Linked DNA regions of Homo sapiens. The protein of the gene in region 1 interacts with the protein of each later gene in a pairwise test. Each region holds a gene or a part of one and is shown in the gene's direction. Other genes may lie near its edges. The genes, in order: ATXN1, ZC3HC1, RNF183, STAC2, SNAP29, KRTAP8-1 and PCMT1.

What was found.
Region 2: the proteins of ATXN1 (region 1) and ZC3HC1 interact in binary tests that used the Homo sapiens proteins (3 or more experiments, as listed by UniProt).
Region 3: the proteins of ATXN1 (region 1) and RNF183 interact in binary tests that used the Homo sapiens proteins (3 or more experiments, as listed by UniProt).
Region 4: the proteins of ATXN1 (region 1) and STAC2 interact in binary tests that used the Homo sapiens proteins (3 or more experiments, as listed by UniProt).
Region 5: the proteins of ATXN1 (region 1) and SNAP29 interact in binary tests that used the Homo sapiens proteins (3 or more experiments, as listed by UniProt).
Region 6: the proteins of ATXN1 (region 1) and KRTAP8-1 interact in binary tests that used the Homo sapiens proteins (3 or more experiments, as listed by UniProt).
Region 7: the proteins of ATXN1 (region 1) and PCMT1 interact in binary tests that used the Homo sapiens proteins (3 or more experiments, as listed by UniProt).

What each region holds. Positions count from the first base shown.
Region 1 is NC_000006.12:16,754,961-16,758,460, reverse strand, and holds part of ATXN1 (ataxin-1), read left to right. Parts: intron 1-3,500. UniProt on the Homo sapiens protein: Chromatin-binding factor that repress Notch signaling in the absence of Notch intracellular domain by acting as a CBF1 corepressor. Binds to the HEY promoter and might assist, along with NCOR2, RBPJ-mediated repression. Binds RNA in vitro.
Region 2 is NC_000007.14:130,034,375-130,037,874, reverse strand, and holds part of ZC3HC1 (zinc finger C3HC-type protein 1), read left to right. Parts: intron 1-3,500. UniProt on the Homo sapiens protein: Required for proper positioning of a substantial amount of TPR at the nuclear basket (NB) through interaction with TPR.
Region 3 is NC_000009.12:113,300,577-113,304,853, reverse strand, and holds the start of RNF183 (E3 ubiquitin-protein ligase RNF183), read left to right. Parts: upstream 1-1,477; 5' UTR 1,478-1,798; intron 1,799-1,804; exon of another isoform or gene 1,805-2,540; 5' UTR 2,541-2,659; exon of another isoform or gene 2,660-3,102; 5' UTR 3,103-3,182; exon of another isoform or gene 3,183-4,277. UniProt on the Homo sapiens protein: Acts as an E3 ubiquitin ligase catalyzing the covalent attachment of ubiquitin moieties onto substrate proteins. Triggers apoptosis in response to prolonged ER stress by mediating the polyubiquitination and subsequent proteasomal degradation of BCL2L1.
Region 4 is NC_000017.11:39,215,946-39,219,445, reverse strand, and holds part of STAC2 (SH3 and cysteine-rich domain-containing protein 2), read left to right. Parts: intron 1-1,272; coding exon 1,273-1,579; intron 1,580-2,272; coding exon 2,273-2,370; intron 2,371-2,545; coding exon 2,546-2,636; intron 2,637-3,500. UniProt on the Homo sapiens protein: Plays a redundant role in promoting the expression of calcium channel CACNA1S at the cell membrane, and thereby contributes to increased channel activity. Slows down the inactivation rate of the calcium channel CACNA1C.
Region 5 is NC_000022.11:20,872,507-20,876,006, forward strand, and holds part of SNAP29 (synaptosomal-associated protein 29), read left to right. Parts: intron 1-3,500. UniProt on the Homo sapiens protein: SNAREs, soluble N-ethylmaleimide-sensitive factor-attachment protein receptors, are essential proteins for fusion of cellular membranes.
Region 6 is NC_000021.9:30,812,197-30,814,645, reverse strand, and holds KRTAP8-1 (keratin-associated protein 8-1), read left to right. Parts: upstream 1-1,371; 5' UTR 1,372-1,425; coding exon 1,426-1,617; 3' UTR 1,618-1,949; downstream 1,950-2,449. UniProt on the Homo sapiens protein: In the hair cortex, hair keratin intermediate filaments are embedded in an interfilamentous matrix, consisting of hair keratin-associated proteins (KRTAP), which are essential for the formation of a rigid and resistant hair shaft through their extensive disulfide bond cross-linking with abundant cysteine residues of hair keratins.
Region 7 is NC_000006.12:149,752,741-149,756,240, forward strand, and holds part of PCMT1 (protein-L-isoaspartate(D-aspartate) O-methyltransferase), read left to right. Parts: intron 1-3,500. UniProt on the Homo sapiens protein: Initiates the repair of damaged proteins by catalyzing methyl esterification of L-isoaspartyl and D-aspartyl residues produced by spontaneous isomerization and racemization of L-aspartyl and L-asparaginyl residues in aging peptides and proteins.

The sequences.
Region 1 (3,500 bases):
AGTATGTAAATGCATCTCCCCAGACAGTGAAAGGAGCCTGACAATCCTGCTGGTGTTTATTGTGAACAGATCAACAAGTATTTGGTACTTGTTAGAAACCTTTCAGAGCTCACTAAAGCAACATTTCTTTTGCAGTCTGGTGCCTTTGGCCTTGCAGTCAGTCACTTAACCCTTTCAAGTGTGAAGAGCGTTCATCATTTGGAACCTCCATTGCCCATAGCGATGGCTGGATTTCTAAAGGGTTTACTCAGGGGAATAACTTATTCGGAAAATATATTCCCATTGTCACATTTTAAAACTTGACAGCCATCATAACAAAAACTGGTACTGACAGTAGGCAGACATTCTGAATGTATTCATTCTTAATTTGGATCTATTGGCTGTGATTTGAATGATCTTTGGTAGTAAGTTAAAAGGATTTTTTTTTCCTTAGCTAAGCGAGAAACGATAGAGGCCTATAGCTAGAGGACTGATAGTGCATGGTGCTTTTGGACAATAAACATGTACTTTATTTTAGGATGTAATTTAGTGAGCAGTTAGAAAGCAGTATTCTAGTCTTTGCATTAGGGCACCACTGATAAAGCTGGCTAAGCAAAGAGAAATAATATTATGGCAAAAAGGAAAAAAGGAAAAGTTGCTTTAGTTGCTGAAGCTCTGTGCTGCTCAGGCAATCCAACTAAGTGGGGCAGGGGGCGGGCGGGGGGGAGTATTTTCATAACCCTGGTATTTGAAAGAAAAGATAATTGAGAATTATGTCTTGATTTAGTTGTGACTGCCAGTCAGTTTACAATTTTATGGCCAACAAAGCTAAACTGGTAAATTTTTTCCCCCAGGGCTAGGATTGAGAGAGCTACTCAACTCTATTCCCAGGGGGTTTATGAGTTTTTACCGTTTTGTGAGTTTATGTGGTTGGTAAATTCATTGTGGCCTGGTCAGATGAAGCACTGCTGTAGTTAAAATGAGCTATTATTTCTTCTAGCTACTCAACTTTTATAAGGTGGTAAATAGATGGGAAGCAAGGATGTCAATATTACACAATGCCTTGGAGGTCCTGGATTCTATTTTGCAACATATAGAAAAATGCTTTACTTGCAGTAAAATGTGAACATATATTTTTCAGTGCACAAATAAATTCATGTGAAAATAAGTATAAAAAAATGTACCTGGTGGGAACCGCCAAAGGCAATATTTTTCCTTGCGGATTTCGTTTTAAGAGGGTTTGGTAAACAGAAGTGACACTTTGTCAAAAATGTTACGACTAGACTTCAGGACTTCTGAATTGTCTTTTACACTTAGAGGAAGATTAAACAGAAACTCTTTAGCCACAAGATTACATGTCAAATGCCTGTAAGTTTCAACATACCTAAGTCAGTTGCCTAGGAGTCCTGGGAAAGGCCAGTGCTGAGATTATTGAAATATTAGTAAACATTACTATGACTCCTGTTTTTGTTGTCATTATGGAGTCCAAGGACGCACATTTCTTTGAATAATGTTGTGCCTTTATTGTTTTTCATTCTGAAATGTCAAGTGGATTTTACTTTTTTGCACATACCTTGAGTGACAGTTTCTGATGACTAACACTAACACTCATTTTGTTTCCTATTAAAAGTTAAGCAATAAACATATTTTACTAAAATTCTGAAACTCACGTAAGTAGGTAAATGTGGGAGTGAATGTTAATTCTTTAAACTGTAGTTATCTGAAAATAACACATAGATTAGGATCTGAACAGCTTAAATACTTGCATCGGTAAAGTGACAATAGTGAAGTAAGACAGGCTATTATTTTTAGGGGAGAGATAGATTATTTGACTTTCCTTGCTCTGTATTTTCAGAGTAATTCAATAGTTCGAATGATTAGTTTCTGTGAGAGATTTAGATCTGTGCAGCTTAATTGCTTCAAATAACAGATTTAGTTCTGGTCATACTTCCAAGGTTATCAGAAGCAGGCCCTCCTTATTTTGATAAAAGCATTGAAAGCAATACATTGTAGAAATGGTAATAGAAATAATAATTTCTGTTTTAGGACCTTACATATAGAACTTCCTTTTCTAAGATAAGAATTTTAAGTCATCAATTATGTTCACATTTTATTTTCATGTAATTTAGTTTAATAAAATAAATGTACTCATTCAAAATTTTTTTAAGAAGTGATATACAGTGTCAGTTTTACAGAATTTTTTAAATGTTGGCTGAAAGAACGGTAATTACATTGAGATTTTTAAAAATATATAAATGCTTAAAATTACAGAAGTAATAAAAAGAATGGTTTTAGACAAATCTTATGGAAAGTTTTTTATTTTATTCTTTTATAATTATATTTATGGATATTTGTCTTTATTAGTGTAGTAATATATTTTATAACGCTCATAATTTGAACTTTCAGGCTAATGTACTATAAATATTTGTATTACGCATTACTACCATCCCAAATGTACCAAAACACGTTTAGAGAGAACAATTATGGACAAAAAAGCAACAAGCATTATATTTTGTTTGACATATTTCATGTTAGCAGAAATGTTTCATTGATTTTTCTGTAACTTTTAATGCATCCCATTTGTGGAGTAATGAAAATGTAATGATAATTGCCACAATGTAAGCAAAAATTGTATCCTACCTGAAAATTACTTTCCAGAAAATTCATGGTAGTGTACTCAGAATTTGAGACTCAAGAGGGCAGAGGTTTCCCCGATTGTGATGTTTTGATTTGGGCTAAGAGGAACTCTTTTTTTTTTTTTTTACACTTAGGTGCCCTTTAACATGACAAGTTTTGAATGAGTTAGGTAGCAGAAGTTTTTCGTGACAGTTATTGTAGCTACTAACCTATAGCATCTATCCTTCTAACGTTCAAAGAAAATATATTTTTCTGTCACTGTGTATGGCAAACTTTATTTTCTTGTGCCCTTAATTTTGTTCCCCTTTCTCACATTATCTCCTGGTACTTACTGACCATTACCTCAGTTTTGTTTAGGCCGTCTTTCTTGTTAATCTTCCAATATTAATAGTATTGTATTATGTTGCTCTGCTGGGTTTTAAAAATATTGAGTATTCCATTTTTGGTGTATATTATTGTATAAAATGTCCTATAAATTATTTTCTGGTATATTATTTTGTAAGTTTTTGCAGTGAATACGTGCTGCCTTGCTTGTATTCTTGCCTTCTTCCCTCTGATGGAATACAAGTTATGTAAACTCTCTGTATTATCCTAACTAGTGCAGCAACACAAATACTTTTGAAATAAGAAAGCATACTCATGCAAGAGTAAAGTAATCTTCTATGGCATTTACATCATGTTTGACCCTCCTCTGCACTTCAGCAAACTAGGAGGAGGTTGTAACTTGGACTCTATAAAACCTTATCTGCCAGGTGATATGTAAACAGGATTGTGTGCACACACATTGTCATATAGGCAAACACTCTCCCAACTGGTGAGCTCATAAAAAGCACTGTCTGTAAATTTATGGTACCTGCACCTCATTTGAGAATCAAGTATTTTGA
Region 2 (3,500 bases), on another chromosome or scaffold:
TAAAAAAATTCTTTAGACCCATAGTTAAAAAGCAACACTATTCATCTGTATATTTCATGCCTTGACCAGGAATCAGTGCCATGTAGGTATATTTTTTATTTCAGTAGGATGGCAGGCTAATTCCAGGGTCACTGATGGCTAAGAATATTCCATGATTTACCACTAAAAGGAGAAAATAGATTGAAAATAACCAGAGATTCCCCTCTACCTTTGATCAATGAAAGGGTGGTAGAAAAGGGATTATTAAATAAAATTGTTTAAGTGAAGATGATTGTATAATAAGGATTTCCTGCTGTTGAAATAGCTAGGATTTACTAGTTATTTACCTGTATTGTATAACAAAACTTGGTCCTATGAGGATTTGATTCCATCCTTGTCTAGTGCACTCAGTCCAAGTTTGTTTGTTTGTTTGTTTGTTTGTTTTCCTTGAGACGGAGTCTTGCTCTGTCGCCCAGGCTGGAGTGCTGCAATGGCTCAGTCTAGGCTCACTGCAACCTCTGCTTCCTGGGTTCAAGCAATTCTCCTGCCTCAGCCTCCCGAGTAGCTGGGACTACAGGCGCGTGCCACCACACCCAGCTAATTTTTGTATTTTTAGTAGAGACAGGGTTTCACCATGTTGGCCAGGCTGGTCTTGAACTCCTGACGTCAAGTGATCCGCCTGCCTTGGCCTCCAGAATTGCTGGGAGGCCTGTAGGCGTGAGCCCCCGCGCCTGGCCGTCCAAGTTTTTAAGGTCTGCCCAGGGCTCTATTGGTGGTTCCCAACTCTTGTCACCGTACATTTTGCTTTCCTGATCTCATTCATAACTTCAGCTACCACCTCGGAGACCTCTAATTCCTATCCAGACCTCTCTTTTGAGCTTGACTCATATTTTCATCTACCTTCTAAACATTTCCACTTAATATTATAGGTACCTGGAACTCAATGTGTATAAAACTGAACTCTTCATCTTATACCTAAAACTTTCTCCATCTTGGCAAATGGCACTGACGTCCCATCCAGTTGTCCTAGCCAGAAACCTGAAAGTCACTTTAGATGCTCTTCTCTATGGTCACCCACTTTGACCTATCCATTCTACCTCCTACATGGATCTTAGATATAACCTTTCAATTATATGATCCCTTGGTTTGGTTCTTTAACATTCAAAGGACATTTGTGTGGATAAAAGAACACTCAGTTATTTCACTTTATGCTTAAATTTATTAAGCAAAACTAATAATTTTGAAGGTAATTTTTTTCTAACATTTGCCAATAATTATAAGCTAAATTAAATTTCTTTAAACATTTTATTTTATTTTATTTTATTTTTTATTTTGAGATGGAGTCTCACTCTGTCACCCAGGCTAGAGTGCAGTGGCGCGATCTTGGCTCACTGCAACCTCCGCTTCTTGGGTTCAGGCAATTCTCCTGCCTCAGCCTTCCGAGTAGCTGGAATTACAGGTGCCCGCCACCATGCCTGGCTAATTTTTCCCTCCTGAGTTCAAGCGATTCTCCTGCCTCAGCCTCCCAAAGTGTTATTTTTAGTAGTGACGAGGTTTCACCATTTTGGCCAGGCTGTCTTGAACTTCTGTCCTCAGGTGATCCACCTGCCTCTGCCTCCCAAAGTGCTGGGATTACAGGCGTGAGCCACCACTCCCAGCCTTACCTTGACTTTTAAAGCCAACTTTGTTCTTTCTCCAACTTTTCCCTTGGATTGCAAATTCATGCAGAGTCAACAAGTGCACCAAAGAAAATCCCCTGAATTGCGGAAAAAAAAAAAAAAACAGGCATATTACTCTTCAGAAAAATCAAAGCTAGAATGTTTATCTATTAAAATATCTCTCCCACCTAGGCTCAGATCAAATGGCTTCACTGTTGTGGCTCAGAAAGGGGCAGACTCCTTCCTTCCAAATCACCCCATCACAGAACACCCATTGCTAAGTAGCAAGCCAGAGGGTTAGACTGGATGCCCCATAAGAGGAGACTTCAAAGTGTTGAGACCTTCAAGTGTAGCCTGTGGAGGAAAATCTTAATCTGTGGGTGACAAAATAAGTGCTTCAGGACCACTTGCTCCAAATCCACATTCTGCAATACAGTCCAAGAAAAAAGGCAAAGTGGCGAGGCGTGATGGCTCACACCTGTGATTCCAGCAGTCTGGAAGGCCAAGGCGGGAGGACCACAAGGTCAGGAGTTCGAGACCAGCCTAGCCAATGTGGTGAAACCCCATCTCTACTAAAAATACAAAAAAATTAGCCGGGCGTGGTGGCACATGCCTGTAATCCCAGCTACTAGGGGATGTTGAGGCAGGAGAATCGCTTGAACACTGCACCCCAGCCTGGGCGACACAGTGAGACTCCATTAAAAAAAAAAGTGCTGATATATTTGGGGAATGCTGAATAGTTTCACAGGGCTCACTGCAACCTCCGCCTCCCAGGTTCAGGTGCGAAACTACGAGATTTTTTGAAGAAGGAAGCCACTTCACTCGGCTGTTTTTTTTTTTTTTTTTTTGAGACAGTCTCACTCTGTTGCCCAGACTTGAGTGCAGTGGCTTGATCTCAGCTCACCACAAACTCTGCTTCCCAGGCTCAAGCGATTCTTCTGCCTCAGCACCCCCGAGTACCTGGGATTACAGGTGCATGCCGCTACCACCTGGCTAAGTTTTGTATTTTTAGTAGAGACGGGGTTTCACCATATTAGCCAGGCTGGTCTTGAACTGCTGACCTCAAATGATCCACTCTCCTCGGCCTCCCAAAGTGCTATGATTACAAGCGTGAACCACTGTGCCTGGCCTCTAGGCTGAATTTGAAAGACCAGCAACAGTGGGTAAAAGCAAAAGGCCAAAGGATGGTACATTTGGGGAATGCTGTAATAGTTTCACAGGGCTGGCTCACAGTGTCCCTGTGGGGAGAATAGAAGAGAAGACTAAAGTGTAGACAGTGGCCAAACCATGATTTTATTAAATGTATGTGATGAGAAGCTACGAGATTTTTTGAAGGAAGAGATGTTATAGATAACATGAACTAGGGTAGAGTACAAACTGCAAGGGGTAAGTCTTGAGGCAAAGAACTAAACTTAGAAGACATAAAAGGACTTAAAGTAATAACCCCAGCCAGGCATGGAGTCTCATGCCTGTAATCCCAGTGTTTTGCAGGGCCAAGGTGGGAGGATCACTTGCGGCCAGGAGTTTGGGACCAGGCTGGGCACCCTGTCTCTACAAAGAAAAAATTTTTTAAAATTAGCCAGATGTGGTGGCATACCCCTGTCATCCTAAGCTACTCGTGAGGTTGAAGCAGGAGGATCCCTTTAACCCAGGAATTCCAAGTTATAGTGAGCTATAATCATGTCACTGCCTTCCAGCCTGCATGACAGAGCAAGACCCTGTCTCTTTTTTTTTTTTTTTTTTTTTTTTTTTTGAGACGGAGTCTCGCTCTGTCGCCCAGGCTAGAGTGCAGTGGCAGGGTCTCGGCTCACTGCAAGCTCTGCCTCCCGGGTTCACGCCATTCTTCTGCCTCAGCCAACCCAG
Region 3 (4,277 bases), on another chromosome or scaffold:
CACATTTGTGTAAAAAGGAGGTAAAGGAATACATAGATGTTTTGCCATGGACATGCTGTTTGTGTATGTATAAAACATCTTTGGAAAGATACACAACAAACTGATAGTATAATACTTTGATTTCCAGGGAAACTAGGTGGCTGCGAAGAGACAGTTTTCACTGTGAAATCAAACCATTCACATGCTCAACCATGTAAATATATTACCTATTTAAAAATCAAATGTGGGCACGGTGGCTCAAGTGTAATCTTAGCACTTTTGGCAAGTGGATTGCTGGAGCCCAGGAGTTTGAGACCAGCCTAGGCAACCTGGAGAAACCCCATCTCTACAAGAAATACAAAAATTAGCCAGCCACGGTGGCATGCACCTGTAGTCCTAGGTACTCAGGAGGCGGAGGTGGGAAGACTGCTTGACCCCAGGAGGTTGAGGCTGCAGTGAGCTGTGATCGTGCCACCGCACCCCAGCCTGGATGATAGAGTGAGACTCTGTCTCAAAATAAATCAATACATAAAAATTAATGTAAAAAAACACAAAATGCGGGGACTAGGGCATTTGATTACATCACCAAGCAGATACATTTATTTACTTGTTTATTTCTCAAGTATGGCTGAAAATGTCAGTAAAGAAATAAGGGGCCAGGCGCGGTGGCTCATGCCTGTAATCTCAGCACTTTGGGAGGTCGAGGCAGGTGGATCACCTGAGGTCAGGAGTTTGAGACCAGCCTGGCCAACAAGGCGAAATCCTGTCTCTACTAAGAATGTAAAAATTAGCCGGGCATGGTAGCGCGCACCTGTAGTCCCAGTTACTCGGGAGGCCGTGGCAGGAGAATTGCTGGAACCAGGGAGGTGGGGGTTACAGTGAGCCAGTATCGCCCCACTGCACTCTAGCCTGGGCGACAGAGCAAAACTACGTCTTAAAAAAAAAAAAAAAAAAGAAAGAAAAAAAAAAAGAAAGAAAGAGAGAGAGAAAGAAAAGAGGACCATAGGTACAAAAAGAATTTGAGCGGGAACAAAAGATGGGCCACGTGAACAGACCGGTTATAACAATAATAGTTCTGGTTAACATTTAGCGAGTTACTGTCTGCCAGGCCCTGTGTTATTACGCGATCTCGACACGTATTACCTCATTTAATCTACAGATCAAGTAGGTAGGTTATTATGGCCATTTTCAGGTGAGGAAACTGAGGCTGGCAGAAGTTAATTAATTTGCTCAAGTCTCCATCGGTAGTTAAACGGAGTTTGGATTCTCAGTGAGGGCTGAACTCTGACCTAGAAGTGTGCCTTGCTTGAGAACCCTGGCTCTTCAGGCAGACGCTCAACCGTCTCCCGACTATTTTTCTGCTGTATTAGTGGCCGCTTTTGTCAGTATTTTGCAAGAGCTATCTGTATTTTGGTTACAGGGACTCAGCATAGGGAAGGATCCATCTCGGCAGAAGCCAGGAGTCGAGGCAGGTCAGCGCACAGAGGACAGTGGAATCCGAGGGGATGGCAGGAGATCAATCGGACCCAGAACAGAGGCCTGCAAGGATGAGCGCACTTGATCCCCTCAGAGAAAAAGCCAGAGTGACTCACAGGAGAAAGACAAAGCAACCAAAGCTTCCAGGGTGTACAGGAGGTCCAAAGTCACCAGAAGGAAGAAGAAAACCTGAAACAGCGAGAGCTGGCCAAACGCTGCTAAGACCTATGCAAATAAGACCCACCCACGCTACCTGGAAATCGGGCCTGGGAAGTCAGAAAACAAAGCACATGCGTGCAGGGCTGCACGAACGGAGGCGGAGGAGGCGGCTCCGAGGGAGCAGGTAAGGAGACAGAGAGGGTCGCGGAGGGACGGGTCACAGGGCTCCAGAGTCCAGAGAGGCAGCAGCCGTGCAGCGCGCGACAGGTGAACTCTGGCCTGGGAGGGCAGGCTACTGGGTTCATCTTTCAAACTCAGCCACTCTTTAGCTGGGAAGACTTCGGCAAGTTGCCTCACCCTTCTGAGCCTTGGCTTCCCCATCTAGAAAATGGGTCTAAAAATAATCATGCTAACTCTGTATTGAGCGCCTTCCGTATTCTACTGGGCACCGTATAGACTATTCCTTCCCCAGAGCAACCTTGTAGGAGTGGGATGATTAGCCTTTTTTACAGAGGAAAATGAAGTTCAGAGAGGTTAAGCCATTTGTCCAAGACAAATTGTTCCAAATCTGGTTCCAAAGCCGGCACCTTTCTACTCCCCATTCAGCCTCTCTCACAGGGTGGTTTTAGAGTATCAAATGGCTTTCTGCAAACAACAACAAAAAATCCCAAAAGGCTAGTAACCTATCTAGATGGATCACCACACTTAGATCTTAGCAAGGGCCAGGGCCCTTTGTAAACTGTGAAGTGCTATGGAAATGCCAGTTCTTGGTTGAAAACAATGGAGTGATGCTGGGGACAATTGATATTTGGCGATGACTTGTTCATAGACCAAGGAGATGACTTTGGGGCGGTGTTTAGGATTTACTGTAGCTGAGATGTCCTGGCTTGGGGTGGAGGTGATACATGGCCAGAATCTCTCCCCAGCTGATCCTGAAACAGCAGTGGATCCCTGGGAGAGCAGCACAGATAAAGATCCAGGCAATAATGATGCTTCCTCCTCTTGGACAGCCTTTTACAGTTCTGGCCATGGAACTTCAGAGAAGGTAGGTCTGATTTGGGGGGAAACAGGAGATCTTGACGTGTAGTAATACAAGCTTACTGGATGGAGTAAAGTTAGAATTTTCAGGTAAGAGAATTAAAAAAAAAAAAAAAACTTATAATCTTGCCCCCAGAGATAACCACTGCTAATATCTGGTTGTTTATCTCTCCAGACATTTTTTCCATTGCACACACACTTTTGGAAATTGGATTATATGGTAATATGGTTTTGTTGCTGGTTCTTTTTCGCTTAATGACATTATATCCTAGGTATATATCCATATTAATAGTTTTACCACATCATATTAAAGGCTGCATAATATCTCTTCCTATGGATGGAGCAGAATCTACTTAATCAATGTCCTATTACTGGATGATGACGTAGTTCTCCATACGTCACCGTTAAACCAGCGCCTGGATGGGCATCTCTTTACTCACATCTTTGCAGAAGTCCTTGATGGTTTCCGTGGAATCGATTCCCAGTGGGGGAAATGATGAGTCAAGGTTACATACAGTTTACGGCCTCTGGTAAGTATTAAAGATCTGCTTCTAACACACTCTGGGATTCAGGGGCTTCTCAAAGCTTGATGCAGAGGACTTTGTCACGGCTTTGAAATCAACCTTGACCCTTCCTTTCTCTCAAATCCATTTGCATTAATAATTTCAACTGCCTCATATATCCATAACAATGTTTTGATCAACAGTGAATTACATATGTGATGGTGGCCACCTAAGATTATAATACCATATATTTACCTTGCCTTTTCTAAGTTTATGTTGAAAGACACACGCAATTATCATTGTGTTACAATTGCCTACAGTGTTCAGAACATAATAAGCTGTATGGGTTTGTAGCCTAGGAGCAACAGGCTAGACCGTATAGCCTAGGCATGTAGCAGGCTCTACCATCTAGGTTTGTGTAAATACTCTCTGTGCTGTTCATACAACGATGTGTTTCTGAGAACATAGTCCCATTTTTAGGTCATGCATTGCTTTGTGGTCTTTACTGGGTGCTGGGCTCTAACTAAAAGCTTTACTAGTTTTGGCTTCCTTTGCACAAGGAGAAATAGAGGCACAGAGAGGTCAAGCAATTCAACTGGAATCACAGCCCTAAATAGCCATGGATCTGGCATCATGAACCTTGACAGAAACTACAACTGGATCCCTAGAACTCCACTGCTTCTTGGGAAGTGGCTTTGATTCTGTCCCCAAAGATATCACTTATCCCATCCCCTTTTATCTCCTCTGCCACTGCCTAACCTGCACCACCATCACACGCCTGAGCCACACTGCTGCAGCCCGAACGGGTGTTCCCTTCCCGATCTTATCCCTCTCAGCCTGTCCTCTGCTCTGCAGCTAGAATGGTGTTTTAAAAATGGAAATAGGATCAGGTACCTTACCCTACCGCTCACCCCTGGAATAAAATCCAGATGAGCTCCTGAGTTCACAGGTCCCGAGTACTATACCCTCCCACCTTGCCTACTCCGGTCACCACACCTTGATCACCCTGGGCTCCTTTCACTTTCTCAAATTGGAAGAGCTTTTCTCACCTCGGGGCCACACATGCTGTTCCCTGGGCCTGCAACGCTCTTCCTCCACTGTGCGTGGCTGGATTCCTATATA
Region 4 (3,500 bases), on another chromosome or scaffold:
CCAGAGGAGGGAGTGGGTCATGAGACAGAATTCCTGCAGAAGAGAGTTCCTGGAGGAGGAAGGACCAGTGGAAGCATATTGGCAGGATAAAGAGGGTATGAACTGAGTGAGGCAGAGAAGAGGACAAACATGTCAAAAGCTCAGAGGCATAAAAGCATGGATGAGTTTGAGAATTGAGGATTCTCAATTCTCAATGAATTGAGAAATGAGTTTCTGGGCTGCAAAGGCACAGGTTGGAAGGACAGGTTTGGCCAAGTTGCAAGGAGAGTCTCGTGGCTGGGGCGAGAGCCTTGGACGGTGTCCCGAGGAGCTAGGAAGAGTTTTTAGCAGGATCAGGCATCACCCCCGCAACAGCTGTATGGAGGACAGGTGGAAGCAGGGGGCTGGAGGGGAGGCTGTGGCCTTGAAGCAGACTGGGGCATCAGGGCCTGAACTAAGGGCTGTGAGGTGACGAGTCAATGGGAGGGAGGGGAGGGCTAGAGAGACTTTCTGTCGGGGAGAATCAGTCCCAAGGATGAGGGTCCAGGACGACCACTCCTCACCCCCCACCAGCCTGTTCGAGAACACAGGTGGATACTACGTTGCCCAGGCTGGTCTCCAACTGCTTGGCTCAAGCGATTCCCTCCCGCCTCAGCCTCTCAGAGTGCTGAGATTATAGGCAGGAGCCACCATACCGTGCCTATTTTTTTTTTTCTAAACTTGAGTAAATGGTACACCCATACAACAAAATACTTTGTAGCCATAAAAAAGAATGATGAATCTATTTATGTATGGGTATGGAATGATTTCCAAGATTTACTGTTTATGAAAAAAAGCAAGGCACAGGAAATATAGTATACTACCATTTCTTCAAAGAAAAATGGAATTAAACCACTTAAACTTGTTTCTATCCGATTTCACATAAAAGTCTAGATTTCTTTTGAAAAACTAGAAAACCTGGCAACAGCCTCAATTGGCTTGAGGAGACCTGCAGCTACTCCCTGGCCATCCAGTTTGCCACAGTCCCCACGGCTCTTGATTGCTGCCCACCTGGCCAGAACTCCTTTCTCCATGGAGGTCAACCACCTGGCTTTTGTGGCACCTGAGATTGCGAAGTGTCGTCGGGACCTGGGGAGCCTCTCTGTTGCTGTTTCATTTCGCTCTGGCCCTCAGCCCCCACGCTGCTGCTGCTGCTGCTGCTGCCGCCCCTACCGCCAGAGACACCCTGAAGGGAAGCCCGCCCTGGCCAGCCCCCTCTAGGCTCCCACTCACAGCTCCCTCTTTTTCTCCCAGCTCCAGCGATTCAAGCGCTCCCTCTCCCTCAAGACCATCCTCCGAAGTAAGAGCTTGGAGAACTTCTTCCTTCGCTCGGGCTCTGAGCTCAAGTGCCCCACCGAGGTGCTGCTGACGCCCCCAACCCCACTGCCCCCTCCCTCCCCACCACCCACAGCCTCGGACAGGGGCCTGGCTACCCCATCCCCCTCCCCATGCCCAGTCCCACGCCCCCTGGCAGCGCTCAAACCAGTGAGGCTGCACAGCTTCCAGGAACATGTCTTCAAGCGAGCTAGCCCTTGTGAGCTGTGCCACCAGCTCATCGTAGGTAGGTGCCTGGGCACTGAGGCGGCCACGGGGAGGGGCCAGCGTGGGTACTGGGGAGTGGGCTCATGTTGCGCCCAATATTATTGGGCTCTTGCTGTTCAGGAGCCCCAATACTAATTGTGCCTCTGTGCCTCTTTTTTTTTTTGAGACAGAGTCTTGCTCTGTCTCCCAGGCTGGAGTGCAGTGATGCAATCTTGGTTCACTGCAACCTCCACTTCCCTGGCTCAAGGGATCCTCCTGCCTCAGCCTCTGTAGTAGCTGGGACTGCAGGCACACACTACCATGCCCAGCTAATTTTAAAATATTTTTTGTAGAGATGGGGTTTTGCCATGTTGCTCAGGCTGGTCAAACCCTGGGCTCAAGCAATCCATCCACCTCAGCCTCCCAAAGTGCTGGGATTACAGATGTGAGCCATTGCACCCACCCCCAACTGTGCCTCTTACCCAAGGCAGAGAGAGGAGCACCACCAAGGGTGGGGGTATACTCAGTGTCACTGCCTCAGTGTCACTGCCATGTTTACTAACGACTCTGGCTTCCGTGCTCCCTCATACCCTGACTGTGTGAGGGGTAGGTGCTGGGCCTCAAGGCTGGCATGAGAATGCCCAACCCCTGCTCTCCTCATCCCCTAATGTGCCCCTCCTTTGCCTGTTGCCCACGGGGGTGTCCTCAATTGCTGAACCCAAATTCTTCCTAGGAAACTCCAAACAGGGCTTGCGATGTAAGATGTGCAAAGTCAGCGTCCACCTCTGGTGCTCTGAGGAGATCTCCCACCAGCAATGCCCAGGCAAGACGGTGAGCGGGGACCCAGGCAGAGATGGCCAGCTGAGTGCTGCCAGTACTGTCACATGGGAGAATGAGTATCCCTCAGGGCTGCTCCTTCCTGTGGGGTGGGCCCTGGGCTTGGGAAGGACCAAGTTCTCCATAGGCCATGACCTCCTCAAAACCTCTCTGCCCTCTCTTGCCATAGTCCACCTCCTTCCGCCGCAACTTCAGTTCCCCTCTCCTGGTGCATGAGCCGCCACCAGTCTGTGCCACAAGCAAAGAGTCCCCACCCACTGGTGAGTGCCCCCCCTGGCCGCAGTCCCTGCTCCCATTGTGGTGGGATGAGAAATCAACATCCCTGACCAGCCTGGCCAACACAGTGAAACCCCGTCTCTCAATTGCTTGAACCCAGGAGGCGGAGGTTGCAGTGAGCCAAGATCACGCCACTGCACTCCAGCCTGGGCTACAGAGTGAGACTCCATCTCAAAAAAAAAGAAAGAAATCAACATTTCTGAGATGGGTGCCTGAGTCACACTGGCACAGACAGTTCCTACCATTTCCCTTCTCTGGATGTTCCTGTCCTGAATTTGGGGTTCATTCATTCATTCACTCATCATTCCTTCAACAAGCACTTTATTAAGCACATACTAAGTGCCAGGCACAGTGCTGGACTCTGAGACACAGTAGTGAAGAAGGTGGAATTTATTGTCTAGTAAAGGAGATAGGACTGAAATGGACAGTCATGCAAATCATCAATCAATCACCATCAGCATGAGCGCCTTAAGTGGGGAAGATAAGGAATAGAGCATAGAATGTGTGCTGAAAGCTGGGTGTGGTGGCTCATACCTGTAATCCCAGCTACTTGGGAGGCTGAGGCAGGAGGATTGCTTGAGCCCAGGAGTTGGAGTCCAGCCTGGGCAACATGGTGAGACCCTATCTCTAAATTAAGAGAAAAGAAAAAGCTCGCTGTCTTCATCTGCAAAATCAGGGAAGACTTCCCAGAGATGTGAAGGATGAGGCATGAGGGGTTCATCCATTTAGGATCTGGAAAGACTGGTGTGGGGCAGAGGGAAGCCTGAGAAAGGAAGGACAGGGAGTTAAAGAAAGGGCAAAGTGCCAAGTGTGGTGGCTCACACCTGTAATCTCAGCACTTTGGGAGG
Region 5 (3,500 bases), on another chromosome or scaffold:
TCTCCTGCCTCAGCCTCCCGAGTAGCTGGGACTACAGGCGCCTGCCACCATGCCTGGCTAATTTTTTGTATTTTTAGTAGAGACGGGGTTTCACCGTGTTAGCCAGGATGGTCTCGACCTCCTGACTTCGTGATCCATCCGCCTCCGCCTTCCAAAGTGCTGGGATTACAGGCGTGAGCCACCACATCCGGCCTAATTTTTGTATTTTTAGTAGAGATGGGGTTTCACCATGTTGGCCAGTCTGGTCTCAAACTCCTGACCTCAGGTGATCCACCTGCCTCAGCCTCCTAGAGTGCCGAGCCACCACGCCAGGCTTTTTTTTTTTTTTTTTTTTTTTTTTTGAGACAGAGTCTCACTCTGTTGCCCAGGCTGGAGTGCAGTGGCACCATCTCAGCTCACTGAAACCTCTGTCTCCCAGGTTCAAGCAATTCTCTTGCCTCAGCCTCCTGAGTAGCTGGGATTACAGGCATGTGTCACCATGCCTGGTTAATTTTTGTATTTTTAGGAGAGATGGGGTTTCTCCATGTTGGCCAGGATAGTCTCGAACTCTTGATCTCAGATGATCCGCCCGCCTCAGCCTTCCAAAGTGCTAGGATTATGGGCGTGAGCCACCACACCTGGCCTCTCTCTTTGTTTTAATTCTGTAATGTGGAGCTTTTCTTTTTCATTTTATTTATTTATTTTTTAAGAGATGAGGTCTTGCTGTGTTGGCCAGGTTGGTCTTGAACTCCTGGCCTCAAGCAGTCCTCCCACCTCGGCCTCCCAAAGTGCTAGGATTACAGGCATGAGCCACCACACCTAACTGCAGAGCCGTTTTTTTTAATGCATCACTAAGGTACAGTAAAATATGTGCATCTTAAGTGGAGAGCCAGTGACTGTGAACCTGTGTACACTAGTGTGGCCACCACCCAGATCAAGATGTAGGGTGTGGCAGGGAGGAAATTAGATAACTACTTCAAACTCAGAGTGGGGCTGGGGAGAAACCAGTGTAGGTAACAAAGCTGGTGGTGATGGCAGAAAGAACAGGCAGGCGAAGCCATCAAGAGTTATGGAGAGGTTCAGGCATGGTGGCTCATGCCTGTAATCCCAGCAATTTGGGAGACTGAGGCAGGAGGATCACTTGATCCCAGCCTGAGCAACATGACAAAACCCCGTCTCTACAGAAAAACACAAAAATGAAGTTGGGCATGGTGGTTCAGGCCTGTAATCCCAGCACTTTGGGAGGCCGAGGCGGGTGCATCGTTTGAGGTCAGGAGTGTGAGACCAGGCCAGCCAACATGGTGAAACCCAGTGTCTCCTAAAAATACAAAAATCAGCCAGGCATGGTGGTGCCTGCCTGTAGCCCCAGCTACTTGGGAGGCTGAGGAGGAGAATCCCTTAAGCCTGGGAGGCAGAGGTTGTAGTGAGCGGAGATTGCACCACTGCACCTCAGCCTGGGTAACAGTGAGACTCTGTCTCAAAAAAAAAAAAAAAAAAAAAAAAAAAAAGGCCGGGCATGGTGAGTCACGCCTGTAATCCCAGCACTTTGGGAGGCCAAGGCCAACGGAGCACGAGGTCAGGAGATTGAGACCATCCTGGCTAACACGGTGAAACCCCGTCTCTACTAAAAATACAAAATATTATCCGGGTGTGGTGGCGGGCGCCTGTGGTCCCAGCTACTCGGGAGGGTGAGAAATGTGTATGGCGTGAACCCAGGAGGCGGAGCTTACAGTGAGCTGAGATCACGCCACTGCAACAGTGAGCTGAGATCACGCCACTGCACTCCAGCCTGGGCGACAGAGCAAGACTCTGACACACACAGACACACACAGACACACACACACACACACACACGAAAATTAGCCACACACACACACACACACACACACACACACACACACACACACACACGAAAATTAGCCGGACATGGTGGTACGTGCTTGTGGTCCCAGCTACTGAGGTGGCTGAGGTGGACCCGACCTTTTGGCTTAGGTGGGAGGATCACCTGAACCCAGGGAGGTTGAGCCTACAATGAGCTATGATTGTACCAGTCTACTCCAGCCTGGGTGACAGAGTGAGACCCTATCTCAAAAAAAAAAAAAAAAAAAGTACTGCAGGAGGGACCTGCAGAGTTGGCCCTGGGAACCTGCCGGCCTCAGTGAGTGCCCTGGGGAGGCACTAGCTAAGGTTATGAGGGTTGGTTGGTTTTTTTGGCTCAGCCATAATCACCATTCTGGGTTCTCCAGCTCAACCCTAATTTTAAACATCCGCCATTTCCCTCCAGTTCTAGTCGTTGCTTGTTTTTTGTTGTTTTTTTTTCAATATACATATCAGAAAGATGTTTTATATCCTAATCTTTGGCCACATTTAATTGCCATAGGAGAAGGTAGGATGTTCATTTGTTTTGGTCTAAGACATCCTCCATGTACAAACTCAGGAGCAGAGTGAGCCCTTGGAGGAGTGGGAAGCTGGCAAGTTTGTGACTAGCACCCTTTCACACCCTTCCACATCCTACATACCTCTTCACAAAGGCTGCTTCTGGGGCTCTTGGAGGCCCCTGCATCCCTGAACATAGCTATGAAAGCCATGGAAGTCCTGTGGCTCCAGGGGCAGTTTTCTTTTTTTGGAGCATCATGAAAACTCAGGGGCTTCCCAGCAAAGGCTTCCATCAGTGAGGCAGCCATAGTTATTTCAGTGAGGTGGGCTTTGTCTCTTGGGAAGTCCTGTTTGTCCTTGCTGACAGCTTTCCAAGCTGCTTGTTCTCATTTCCACTTAAAGCTGATGCGTTCCCGTCAAGGTCCCCAAAGTCATGTACCCTGCCTGGCCTGCCCCTAGATTAGCCCCAATCAGTTGTAGCATTCTTGCCATCTCTTAGTAAATTCAAGAAAGCAAAACTTTCACCCACACTCTGCAGTTCTGTGGGAGCAGAAGCTGCAGGAATGCAGTCTGTCTGTTGGAAGATATGGGGGAGGCAGACAGTCCACAGGGATGCAGTGGGGACCCAGAGGAGAGGGAGGTTGGCCCTGGGAACAGAGGAAGGCTGCACAAAGGACCTGACTTTTTGCAGAAGGTGAAGGTTTTGAGGGAACCCACCAATTGAAGGAGGGGTTGGTGCAGGCACATGGCAGTAAAAGCACAGGGGAAGCCGGGATGAAGGAAGTTGTTGGCCATTTCAAGGGCCCAGCAGGGCCAGACACAGTGGCTCATGCCTGTTATCCCAACATTTTATAAGGCCAAGGCAGGACAATCACTTGGGGCCAGGAGTTGAAGATCAGCCTGGGCAACATAGCAAGATTCTGTCTCTACAAACATAAAAAATTTTTAAAGCTGGGCATGGTGATACAGGCCTGTAGTCATATTTACATGGACGACCAAAAAAAAAAATGGGGGGGCGGCTGGGTGCAGTGGCTCACGCCTGTAATCCCAGCACTTTTGGGAGGCTAAGGTGGGCGGATCACGAGGTCAGGAGATCGAGACCATCCTAGCTAACACGGTGAAACCCCGTCTCTACTAAAAATACA
Region 6 (2,449 bases), on another chromosome or scaffold:
ATATTTAAAAAAAATGCCTCTGCTGTAATTAGTCTACTGCTGGCTAGAACACTGGCATGGTTTTGAATTTTCCAAGTGTCTCATCTTGTTCTTGGATTCAGCCTTTGATTCCTAGCTGCTGATAGCAGGGAGCAAAGTTACCTCTGGGTTATGAAGTAAAATCTGGGAGAGCTCATGTGTAATACATATCTGTTTTGTGGCCTTCTAGAATGATTCCTATTATCTCTGTGCCTATTTCTGTTCCATATGCCCTCTTTGGTATTTGTTCTGTAAGTTCTCTACTAAGTGCCACTGTAAGAAATCTTAATGCAGGTGTCTGAGAATAATATATCAGGTCTTACATGATCCAAGATAGTTTTGATCAGCCTTATCCCTCCTTTAACTCATGCTTGAGAACTGACTCTCTGTTTAGAAAGGAATAACATTCCTTCTTTATCCTGGGGTGCATGATCATTGTAAAAGTGAAATAACTGATTTCATGTTGTCATCTGGCCCTTTATAATATCATCACATTTGTCAGACAATCTAGTTTCATTAGATCTAAGAGAAAAAAAATTTTAAATCTTACAATAAATTTTTTAATTCATTTTTCTGTGTTTACCTTATTAGTTTCAATGTTTAGTTTGAAATATGTTTCAGGCCAAAAAATTAAATTTGTTTGACAATTCAGTACAAGGATTAATCCAAATACTCCGTTTTAAAATCTCAATACTATTAATTCAAGTAGTCTTCTAGAAATGTGATGTTAGGTATAGTTTAGGAGGGGACTATGATTAAGATTACACTTTTAACCAGTTTCCCAAACACGGTAGCTGTAGTAGAGGAAAAAAAAAAGACTCTTTCTCATGAGTTCCATTGCACTTGTCTTTCATATTCCAAAAAAGAGAATCCTTGAAGCAGGTGAATACTAAGACATACTTTAATTTTGAGAATTTTGAGATAGACTCACTATCCATTTGTTATTTTATATATTAATGTATTTAACACATATTTATTGAATTTCAACTGTGTGTTGTGGAAATTCAGAGAGCAAGAGGACTGCATAACAGCTAACAACCTCAGAATATTTCTTGATATTATATACCTGCTTACAGAGTTATATGGGGTCTATAAGACAGAGTGCTTTGAAGTCCTGGCAATAATTTTTTTTTTTTTAGGAAGGGAAATAATTTGTTTAAAGGCATCTTCTCCCTGTATTGCATCACACGAGAGCTTTCTTAAGCCACTGTAAAGACATCATAAGCAAGAGCAAAACAAGTTAATGAGCTTTTTAGAATGTAAATTGGTGTCAAGAATGAAAATGAGGGCTTTGTGTTTTTCACCACCCACCAGAGCTGGGATATATAAAGAAGGTTCTGAGACTAGGAATCCATCCCACTGAGGAAACGCACTCTGTTGCTACCTAAGCCCTCCACTCCCGACACCATGCTCTGCGACAACTTCCCCGGGGCTGTCTTCCCAGGATGCTACTGGGGCAGCTATGGCTACCCGCTGGGATATAGCGTTGGCTGTGGCTATGGCAGCACCTACTCTCCAGTGGGCTATGGCTTCGGCTATGGCTACAACGGCTGTGGGGCTTTCGGCTACAGGAGATACTCGCCATTTGCTCTCTACTGATTGGCTGAAATCCCCGAGGTGTAGCATCTTCTCTCCCTTGAAGGCTGAGCCCCACATCTCCAGGTTCCCCCCGTATCCACTCCTTCAGTCCTCATTTGCTCATCAACCTCAGAGACACTGCTTTCCAACTTACCTCGAGTCCCAGGGGAGGAAAATGAAAAAGCAGACGCTTCCTCAAGCTGCCTCCCCTGGCTGATGTTCTCTGGGACATTTTCGGAAATTTGACCTCCCACTTGTCATGAGCTACTTTTGAATTTTCCATGACACTCATGACTTGTGATGAAGTCATGGATATGTCTATCAAAATCTCAATAAATTTGTCTCAGCTGGTATAATATTCTCATGCTAGAGCGAAGTTTCCTTTCTTGGTGTGTGCATATTTTCTGTTACATGGGTGGTGGGGGGGAAGTGAATTTATTTTTCTCATGTGGGCATTAGGAACAGCCAGAAAGCAAAGAATTACTGATCCTGTGTGATAAGCAGGTAAGAGGGTGGGTTGCAGGTAATGACTTAAAAGGTTGCCTGTTTGAACCTTCTTTAAATTTTATGATGCCCACCTCCAACCCAATGGAGCACCATTTATTGCTCGGGGTCCCCTTCTCATCTCACTACTTCTGCTCCTCCGCAAGAAAACCCAACACAGGAGGAACTTTTTCAGTCACTTCCATGTTAGTCCAAATGAAATCCACTGTGTTCCCTTTCCCAGGGACTAAGGATTATAGACTAAAGTGCCATGCCCCCTAATGAAGGATGCTGGAGCATTGAGTAATAGAGAAGCCACAGACATCCTTTGGAAATCTGAGAGTTTTTAAGGTGAAGGGATAAATCCCCT
Region 7 (3,500 bases), about 130 Mb from region 1:
ACCGGTAGGTTATCATAGTAGGCACTTGGCTGTGGCAGAAATTTGTAATCAATCAGGCTCTTAAAGTCTCTCCTTTTTTGGGCCAAATTTGTGGTAAGCCAAGACTAGATAGATCTTTTCCCGGTGGTTTCATAATCACTTTAATGTATTGCATTACTGTTCTTAGCTGAAATTTCTAAGGATGTTTTTCTGTCAGGAAATTTAATAAGGAATATTTAATATACATAGATGTTGATTTTGCAAATAGTTTTATACTAGATTTATGATTGGTAAGAGGAAATTAGAGTAGAATAGTTGTTTAGCCTCTTTTGTAACACTTGTGCAACTTTAGTTTCAACTTCTTGCTGAGGTAATTCTAGCTAATAGATTTCTTTTTATTAGCTTATTATAAAAGTAATACTTGCTCATGTGAAAATTGTAATTGACATAAAATTTGAAAATATTGCCTTCCTTCCTCATTATTCTACTGTGTATATTCTTCCTAAATTAAAGGCTTTTAATTGAAATCTTAGAAAAATATAAAAATGTGATTGTGTTGATGTTGAAATGAAAAGGGGCCTGCTTACTAGAAGGGGAAGGAAATTACATTTTTAATGGTTTTTTTTTTTTGAGACAGAGTTTCGCTCTTATTGCCCAGGCTGGAGTGCAATGGCACGATCTCAGCTCACCACAACCTCTGCTTCCCAGGTTCAAGCAATTCTCTGGCCTCAGCCTCCCGAGTAGCTGGGATTACAGGCAGGCGCCACCACACCCAGCTAATTTTGTATTTTTAGTAGAGACAAGGTTTCTCCATGTTGGTCAGCTGGTCTTGAATTCCCAACCTCAGGTGATCTGCCTGCCTCAGCCTCCCAAAGTGCTGGGATTACAGGCATGATCCACCACACCTGGCCAATAGTTTTTTTTGTTTTGTTTTGTTTTGTTTTTAAGAAATGAAGCTTAATATAATTTGTTAAGAATATTTTGTTTTCCTTTTGTATTAAAATCTATCATAATAGGACTGTGGTTGTATGATTTCATAGTTGATGCATCATTTATAGAATATTTCAGATTGTAATGGTAGATTTCTTATGTCATGGCTTATATTATAACCACTCTTAAGTAACTTAGAACAGTGACTAAAACTTGAGCATGCTTCAAAATCTCCTGAATCACCTGGAGAGCTTTTCAAAATACAGATTGCCGGAGCTTGAGAATTTGTATTTCTAACAGATTTGTAAGTGGTGCCACTGCTGGTCCAGGGACCACATTTTGAGAACCAGTGACATGGAGAATTGAAAATTATAAGGTTGAATTCTGCCAGCATATCAGCTAAATCAGTTTTATGCTTTAGAATAATGTTTTAGAAAAAGTCTATAGCAGTCTTGCCCTATAGAGTGCTTGGTGATGTTCTCTATATTGTCCAGTGTGGTAGCTACTAGCTACATGTGGCATTTAACATTTGAAATGTGGACAACTGAAGAACCGAAATTCAATTTTTTAAAAAATTAACTTAATGAAATAACCACATGTATCCAGTAGTTACCATATTGGACAGCACAGGTCTCTAGAAATGAAAAAATACAATTATTTTATGATTATGGACTGGTAATGTGCTCGTGAAACAAATTAGCTTAATTTGAAACCGTGAGCCTGCTTAATCCAGGGAATGTGACTATTTAAATAATGTTTATATTAGAGTTTACTTCCTACTCGTATTGAGATAATTTCAAGCCATGGTAAAATTTAGGAAGATAGCCAGAGTAGGTGAGGTGATGTTCTGGAGCAGGGGTATTTAAACCAGAGGGTTTGTGGGATGTTAACTTAATGGATAGGCTTCAAATGCTATAGAGTAGTCCCTCCCTTATCCCATGGTTTTGCTTTCTGAAGTTTCAGTTACCCCAAGTCAACTGAGGTCTGAAAATATTAAATGGGAAATTCCTGAAACAAGCAATTCATAAGTTTTAAATTGTGTGCTGTTTTGAGTAGCGTGAGGAACTCTCTGGACGTCCCACTTGATCCTGCCCGTGACATGAATCATCCCTTTGTTCAGCATATCTATGCTGTCTACACCTGCCCGTTTGTCACTTAGTAGCCTATTTGGTTAGCAGTGACTGTCATAGTATCACAGGGCTTGTGTCCAAATAATCCTTATTTTACTTAATAATGGACCCAAAGTGCAAGAATAATGGTGCTGGCATGTAATGATACTTGTTCTATTTTATTCATTATTTTTGTTAATTTCTTAATTGTGCCTAATTTATAAACTAAACTTTATTATAGGTATGTTACGTATAGGAAGAAAACAACATACAGATGGTCCCTGACTTAACAGTGGTTTGACTTACAAGTTTTTTACTTTACTGGATGTAAACCTGTCATAATAAACCTGTTATAAGTTAAGGAAGGCCGAGTGCGGTGGCTCACACCTGTAATCTCAGAACTTTGGGAGGCTGAGTCAGGAGGATCGCTTCAGTCCAGGAGTTTGAGACCAGCCTAGGCAACATAGTGAAAATAACATTTGTCATTTTCTCTACAAAAAATAAACAAAATTAGCTGGGCATTATGGTGCATGCCTGTAGTCTCAGCTACATGAGCTACGTGGGAGGCTGAGATGGGAGGATCACTTGAGCCCGAGAGGTTGAGGGTGCAGTAAGCCAAGATCATGCCACTGCACTCGAGCCTGGGTGATGGAGCAATACTTTGTCTCAAAAAAAAAAAAATGTTGAGTATCTGTATGGGCTGTATGGGCTTTGGTATTGTATGCGGTTTCAGGCATCTATTAAGGGTCTTGGACCGTATTTCCTGTGGGTAAAGGGAAACTACTGTACTGACCACTGAAAGCAATTGTTCTTTTATCTATTTTTATTTGTAAAAATAATTCAGTCCATTCCCCTAATGATCAATTGTTTCTACTTATGTTTCTTTTGCATTCTTGATTTTGTCATTTTACATATATAATGTTTATGGAATTTGTCATTTAGTCAGCTGATATTTTAGTGCTTTCTATATGACAGGCACTGGGGATACAGCAGTGAACAAAACAAACATCCACTCCCTCTTGTAGCTTCTAATGGGAGCAGCCAAGTATAGTATGTCACATGATAAGTGACAAAGTAGGGAGGGAGGACAGAGTGTGTGGGGCAGTAGGTTTATAGTTGTAGAGAAGGCCTCAGTAAGGTATCATTAGACCAAAGATTTGCTGGAGGAGTAGACACATATCACGCAGGTAGACTTGGGATAAGCATTCCAGGCAGAAGAAATAGCGAATTCCAGATTTGGATTTAGGATCTGGGAGAAAAGATTGGAGGCAAGGATCCAACACCAAGGTTTTAGGCCTTGGCAACTGGAATGATTTGCCATTTTCTAAATTGGAAATGGTGAGTGAGTGAGCAGCCACGTTTATTCTGTGAGGAGGGGACTGTGGGAGATCAGATTATTTTGAGGAATGCTTTTCTTATAAGACATTTAAGTCGAGATTTTTAGTAGGCATTTGAATATGCAAGAATTATGATTTGTAGTTT